Homo sapiens: one gene and its partner. The protein of the gene in region 2 interacts with the protein of the main gene of each other region in a pairwise test. Each region holds a gene or a part of one and is shown on either strand. Other genes may lie near its edges.

Region 1 (3,820 bases), on a different chromosome or scaffold from region 2:
CAGTAATTACATATAATGATAAAATAGAAAATGTCCATCTAAAAGCACATCTTCTAGAATTTACTTTTGGGATAGTTGCACTGAATTTAATATGCAAGAATGAAAACTATAGGTAAAAAGAAGGTTTCTACGGCCTTTGACTGTTAAAGCTGGAATAAATGTGAATTCCTCACAGTAAAACATGACAGGCAGACCGCCTACCCAGCACCCATGCCCTATCATCTGCCTCTAAAAGAATGCTCATTTTATTTAGCTCTCTGGCAATGTGGTCAGGAAGAGTGCCTTGACTCCAGCAAAGGGATGATACCATGATTAGACCAAGTCAATCACAAGAACCCCATTCTCCTCTGACAGTGATCAGTTTTAAGGTGAGCAGCACAGGAACCAGGTCTGACTACTGAGATGCCGATAAGTCTAGAGGCTGCTGGGAAATACTTTTATCTTTAATAATGAAAAGCCCCCATTCCTTCCTGATTTTAGATGCAATCCTTAAAAGCAGCAGCAATAATCCCACAACATGAATGCAAATGTAAGAGAATAACAGAATTTAATCCAGAGCTCTGACACCGTTGTAGAATCAACCAACCCTGGAACTGCATCTGCCTGATATTGCTTTTTTTTTTTTTTTGAGACAGAATCTCGCTCTGTCGCCCAGGCTGGAGTGTAGTGGTGTGATCTTGGCTCACTGCAACTTCCGCCTCCTGGGTTCAAGCAATTCTCTGCCTCAGCCTCCCAAGTAGCTGGGATTACAGGCGCCTGCCACCACACCCGGCGATTTTTTTTGTATTTTTAGGAGAGATGAGGTTTCACCATCTAGGCATGGCTGGTCTTGAACTCCTGACCTCATGATCCACCCACCTCGGCCTCCCAAAGTGCTGGGATTACAGGCATGAGCCACCGTGCCCAGCCTGCCTTTCGACATTGTATATGAGACACTAAACCCCTTAAGCTATTTTCAGTAGGGTACTCTGTTATTTATGGCTGAAATAATTTCAAATGATATATATATATATACATACAGTACAAGAAAAATGATCCATCTAAAGAATGCATGTGTTAAGTCCAAATGCATAAAATGGGCAAGGGTACAAGTAGAAGTAGTCCAAAGAAAAGAGCTTTTGAAGTAAGTTAAATCCTCTGCAAAATTCAGGTCCTGTTAATATATACAAAGTCTGAAGTTTAAAGAAATACATTAGAAAAAAATGTATCTTGCATATGATACAGAAAAGAACGTCTATCACTATTTCTTCTAATTAAAAGATGACAAAACTAGCAAAAGCAAGCTAGGTGCTGAATATTCCACAGTATGTTCCCACAGTTATATTAAATACTAATAGTTATTAAACTTGTGGCTTAAATCACCTCTCCTACCCTAGTCCAATCTGTATGCTGCACTCTGCCAGCAGCTCTCACAGCTTAGCAACAAAAAACAGGGTCGTAACACTTGGGGATGTTCAAGAAGAACTTGTTTGGCCCATCATTTTTCAAATCAGTTCATTTACACTCAGTTCACAGTCGCTACTGATGAATGTTTGTGTCATCTAAGTTCAATACCCAAACAGCAAGCACAGCATCTCTGTGGGAAATGACTGGTAAACCTCCAGGAAAAAAAACCCTCAGTGTTCTTTTCATGGCTTATAGATGCTCTCTATAGACCTCCAAATTTGAAAGGCATCTATAGATACAAGGCTTGCATTTATTGAATAGATAGGCACTAAGAGTAACCTGTGGTTCTTTTTGTGGGTAGGATTTATGCTGAACTATATGGCATTGGTTAACTACTTCTAAGGGACTGGCTAATGTCTCAGTTCAATATTTACCTATTGAGAGTGCAACCACTCCATGCAAGCTTTAAATTAGTTCTGCATATGATCTGCAATTATAATTTTTCTAGCTATAGATTAATATTTTTAAAATGTACTTATTTTTCACAGATCCCATCCAGTGTACAAAATTGATTTTTATTTTATATTTTAGGAACAGGGTTTCATCATGTTGCCTAGAGTGCAATGAAACTGAACTCAAGTGACCCTCTTGCCTCAGCCTCCCAAGTTAGGTGGGAATACAGGCATGCGCCACCAAGTTTGGCTTTGCAAAGTGATATATAACTTCACTCTTTTTCAGAATAAGGTAACAGCAAGTAATGCATTTTAACCTCTTGTTCAAACCATATAGTAGTGTATATATGTTTATTAGAGGTTCTAATGTATTATTAAAATATTTTTCTCAGCCCCACTTGAACATCTGATAGCTTTGAAGGGCGGCTCTGGGAGTAACAGTGGGTGTTATCAATAGTCTTCTAAAATGTAAGCTTCCCAAAGGACTAGAAAAAAAATCCAAGACATATATTCAAATGTATTCTTAAGGATCACTCTATAAAAATAGAGAGTTGTGAATCTGCATCTGCCAGTGATACGCAGTGGGTAGCAAGTCATTTAACTGACTTGGTTATAGACCTTCGTATTTTAACGTATCTGCTACATCATAATATCACAATATGGAATAGTTCTTGCATAAAGTGCTCTGTAAAGCCTGTCTGCATAAATGTTTAATGCAGTACACTGGTAAAATAAGTCAAAACGTGTATCACTTGTTAAATGAAAGATTATACCAATCCAAAATAACTTCTACCAGAAAGAAATAAATACTGCATTGTTTTGTTGATAAAGTGTTTCAGAAGTTAGATTATTACATAAACCCAACTTCTAAGGCAGATAATGTTTTAAGTGATGATAGTCTTGTTGTTGGTATTCCCTGAGAATACAATCATTTTACCACTTAAAGTCAAAAATTTCCCCAGACAGTTGTAGCTCTTGGTAATCTCCTTGGGTCTGGAAACTTTTGAAGAGCCAAGCTGACATTTTTCAGCTCTTTGGGCCACTGGGTTTTAGAGGGAGAAGTCCAGAGATAAGTCCAGGCTGTAGCACAACCTTCAAAACAACACAGGCGCCTCTCTGATCCTGCCCTACCTAAGCTTTGACGGTAGTGGGGCTTCTGTCTGGAGAAATGCCTTCAAAGAGTAACCAGTAGGTGTGACATAGAATTGGCCAATGTTAGCATCTGCAGCCATCATCAAAAGATGAATCCACTGCCACTGCCCCCTGAGGGGCCCCTAAAATTGCAGAAGGTATCAGCAAGGAGGCTGCCAAGGTTGTTTTCCAAGAGAGGCCACAGGAGGAAGGGAGCTACTTGGGGGCACTTACATCTTTTGTGCAGAGGAGCTTCTTTTCATGAGAGCAGGACAGTTTTAATGACTTCTTAAACACTTGTGTGGGACAGGCTGGAGCATGAGGGAGGTTTTAAGCCAGGCACAAAGTTAGTTTCAAACACTAGTTAATAAATCTATTTTTATTTCCTTTTTCACACAGAAGCTGGTAGTCTAGGACCTACATGTAAACAACTTTATATGAATATTTTTTGTGCTTGGTTTACTTGGGTTGATATAATACACTGTATTTAAGTTCCCTGAACACTGGGATACTCCTAATGTTTATGAATGACGGAGGCTTTGTAAATTCATTTGTGTGAATAAAGTTATTTGGTGAGGTCAAATAATCCATATATGATTTGAAAAAAAAAAAGGTCAAAATTTTAAAGACAATTAACTGGAAATATTATATATCAGAAATTGAAAAAAAGTATTGGATAGAAGTTATAAATAAATCAAGCATAATATCTGGCATACCTGCTGCATGAATAGGTGTCCTCTTCAAAATGTAATCTTTTACTAAGATTGAGGCTCCCTGATTAATGAGTACATCCACACATTCAACATGGCCCTTAAAAGCTGCAAGATCTAGGGGTGTTCTTCCACTACTAT
Region 2 (3,820 bases):
GTGGTCATGGGAGGTGGGGTAAATGTGTAGACTCCAGTGAAGCAGAATTAAGAAGGCATTCAAGAAGGCAGAGGGAGGCCTCGTGTGGTGGCTCATGCCTGTTATCCCAGCACTTTGGGAGGCTGAGGAGGGCAGATCACCTGAAGTCAAGAGTTCAAGACCAGCCTGGCCAACATGGCAAAATCCCGTCTCTACTAAAAATACAAAAACTAGCCAGACATGGCAGTGCATGCCTGTAGTCCCAGCTACTCAGAAGGCTGAGGTACAAGAATCGCTTGAATTCAGGAAGTAGAGGTTGCAGTGAGCTGAGATCATGCCAGCCTGGGTGACGGAATGAGATTCTGTTTCCAGAAAAAAAGAGGCAAGGCAGATGAGAGCAGGGCCTGCCTGGTCACCGTGAAAAGTCAACTTCTTTGCCACAAGGCAAACATACACCTTGTGTGCACAGGCTGCCAATCCATGGCCTATGGCCTGAAAGCAATGACTTTGGGATTAAAATAAAACAGGTGGTAGGACTCCTTGTCCATATCTTTTTATAGCAATAGGTAGAAAGGAGCTAATAGATAGGTCTGCTTTTTTTTTTTTTTTGAGATGGAGTCTTGCTCTGTCACCCAGGCTGGAGTGCAGTGGTGTGATCTCAGCTCACTGCAACCTCCGCCTCCAGGGTTCAAGTGATTCTCCTGCCTCAGCTTCCCAAGTAGCTGGGACTACAGGCACCTGCCACCACGCCTGGCTAATTTTTTTGTATTTTTAGTAGAGACAGGGTTTCACCATATTGGCCAGGCTGGTCTCAAACTCCTGACCTCAAGTGACCCACCCACCTCGGCCTCCCAAAGTGCTGGGATTACAGGCATGAGCCACCACACCAGCCTTTTTTTTTTTTTTTAAAGAGAATTTCAGAGAATTGGTATGCACAGAGATTACCAGAAGAAGCCGAGGCCCACTCACCGTATAATACTTCAGTTTCTTGTTGTGCATGTGAATGATATTGGTACAGACACCATTCAGAAAATCCTGGGAATGGGAGACGAGGACCAAGATGCGCTTAAAACTGTAAAGCCAAAGAACCAATTAGTGAAGAGCTCAACCATGGGAGCTAGCTGACAACAGGTGAACTGAAAGTCAGGCCCATCCTCATCCCTAAGCACCTTTTAGATGTGTTGTCCAATTCCTGGCTGTTAGCAAGCACCTAAGCCACGACTCGACAATCTAACTGTAAGGGTATTTGGACGCCTTTCAGTGTGGCGAGACAGCCTGAGTTTCCTCAATCTTCTGTTCTAATTTTCAACAGAATGGGATGGAGACGGTAGTAACAGTGATAGTAACCAGAAGTGTGTATGTACACAAATACACCCACGAATGTATCCAAAACTGTGGGTGGGAAGAACTGGTACAGACACAATAAAAAACAAAATGCTTTACTTTTTGAAAGAAGGTACTAAGTCATCGTACCACTAAAAGCCTTCTTTTAAAATTGGTACAATATTCCAGCTTATTCAGTTCTTTAGCTGTAGGACCATGACCATATTGGCTATATTTTCCTTTGTCACTGCATCATGATCTTAGATGGAAGACCTCTTTTTAGCTTTATACAATTAAGAAAAAAAATATATCTTTAATTAAGATCTTGAATTTGAAATATGGACAAAACCAACAAGGATTTTTTTTAAAAAAAAAAGCTCATAAATTTCAAACTAAAGAAAAACAATCAAAATAAAAGGCCAGCCTTCAACAGCCCTAAAGGTGCTCACTGCTTGTCCAAGAAAGTGAACTCTGTCCTTCCTTCAGTTCCTTTCTCACCGCTCTAACATCAGTGCAGTTTCTGGGCATCCATTTTCTAGATTCCCCCTTTGGGACCTGCCCGCTCACATCCCCCATTCCACCCTCTTACGTTTTTAGTTCTTCTTCCAACCACACGCAAGCATCTAGGTCCAGGTGGTTGGTAGGCTCATCCAGGAGCAGCATGAAGGGCCGAATAAAGAGGGCTCTGAAGGACGGTAAAGGAGACAGAAGCACCTCAGAATTATAATGGATGTGACACAGGACGGGACAAACTTGCCTGCTACATGCAATTCTGAGTAGGCTCCTGGCTTGAGTCTTGAAATCAATTTTAGGCTCTATACCTCAGAGGGAAAAGGAGAAGCAGGACAGAAACAAGAGTCGAAGAGAAGAGATTGAAGAGTAGAATACGGGGCTCAGAAGCATATAAGGACAGTTCGAGGCAAGGCTGTAGAAGTCTTTATGAGTTTATGAGCCTTGTGCACTGAAGTTGGAGACTACGGAGAAGACAAAAAAATACAGAGGAAATAAACTGCTAAAACAAATTAGACCTATCTGAAGGTCTGAAGATAGACCTATCTTGTGGGGTGGCCAGAGTCTAGCGAGGGATAGACTCTAAAGCTCTGGTTCCCAAACCAGAAATCTGTGTTTTTAAAAGCTCCTTGGGTGAACCGGAGGCAGCTAATCCTTGCTAGCATGTGGAACCACTGTGCTTATACTCTAAGGCACATGCAGGCAACTTTCTAGAGAAGTATATCAAGTCTTATAAATTCCCTTCACAGAGAATGATGGGGCAAGGAATTACCTGTTTAGTGACTCTGGGGGGATTATTGGGGGAATGCTGGTCTATGGAAACTCACTTTGAGTCCAGGCCACAAGAGAATAAGAACGACAGCTATCATAATAGCCGTCTAACATTTTATCTTTACAGCTGGAATTAGCAGGACTAGAGTACAAAAAGGGTGGAAAGGGAATCCTGGTGGGAGGACAGAAACAGACCTACTCCACCGTTTTACCTAGGACTACCCCTAGGATCTCTAAACTCTGTGCTGGGTGCTAAGAATCCAATAGAAAACTGAGTCACTCTACCACTTCAGCCAGGAAGCTCTCTCTCTAGCCCATACACAACAACCCCCTCCACACTGCAGATGTCCATGTCTCATTTGACACTTACCACTGACTCCTGTTCCAAACAGTTCCACTGGAGTGAACACTAAACACTGGAGAGATGGGGGAGTTATGGGGGTAGGGAAGGAGGGAGGGACTCACCTGGCAAGGGCAACCCTCATCCTCCAGCCCCCACTGAAGTCTTTTAGCTTCTTGCGCTGCATGGCAGGTGTGAAACCCAGTCCATGCAAGATCCGCGAGGCCCTCATCTCTGCCTTGTCGGCATCCAGCTCCTCCAGGCGCTCGTAGAGCTCCATGAGCTTCTCACACTCCGCTGTGGACAGTGTATGGCCATGAGGCTCCTGGGGGCCTTTCTGGGAGGACGCCCACCCCTATGCCCAGGTCTGGAGCCCTACCATCCTCATGAGCCAGCCGCTCTGCCTCTTTCTCCAGCATGGCCCGCTCTGTGTCGACTTCCATCACACAATGCAAGGGTGTCTTGTCACTAGGGGGCATCTCTCGAGTCAGATGGTAGATGTCGATGTGCTCAGGGATGGGCACTTCACGCTTCCCAATAGCAGAGAGCAGCATGGACTTTCCTGAGAGGGGAGAGCAGCAGACGCTTGGTACAGTGAACTCCCCTATCCCTCTTCACCACTAGTTCTTCCACCCCAGTCAAACTGGGACCTCATCCATTTTTTTTTTTTTGAGGACCTTTCTTCCCTTCATTCGTTCAAATCTTGCCAGCCCCCATTCTTGGGATTCCTTTCTAACTTTCCTCCAATTCTTGCCCCACCCCTTATCTGAAGCTTTTTTCACTTACCACAGCTTCACACGCCCCTGACCAACTTCTCCAGCACCTGCTGTAACTAATCATGTGGTACAGGGTGGACGCACCCTAATCTGAAAATCCAAAATGCTCCAAAATCCAAAA

What was found.
Region 1: the proteins of ABCF2 (region 2) and ANKRD28 interact in a two-hybrid assay, tested with the Homo sapiens proteins (one large-scale study listed by BioGRID).

What each region holds. Positions count from the first base shown.
Region 1 is NC_000003.12:15,686,334-15,690,153, forward strand, and holds part of ANKRD28 (serine/threonine-protein phosphatase 6 regulatory ankyrin repeat subunit A), read right to left. Parts: coding exon 3,686-3,820; intron 3,556-3,685; exon of another isoform or gene 2,014-3,555; coding exon of another isoform or gene 1,978-2,013; intron 1-1,977. UniProt on the Homo sapiens protein: Regulatory subunit of protein phosphatase 6 (PP6) that may be involved in the recognition of phosphoprotein substrates. Involved in the PP6-mediated dephosphorylation of NFKBIE opposing its degradation in response to TNF-alpha.
Region 2 is NC_000007.14:151,220,630-151,224,449, forward strand, and holds part of ABCF2 (ATP-binding cassette sub-family F member 2), read right to left. Parts: intron 3,486-3,820; coding exon 3,303-3,485; intron 3,221-3,302; coding exon 3,049-3,220; intron 1,988-3,048; coding exon 1,892-1,987; intron 1,052-1,891; coding exon 949-1,051; intron 1-948. Other genes in the region: ABCF2-H2BK1 (ABCF2-H2B protein), read right to left, coding at 949-1,051, 1,892-1,987, 3,049-3,220, 3,303-3,485.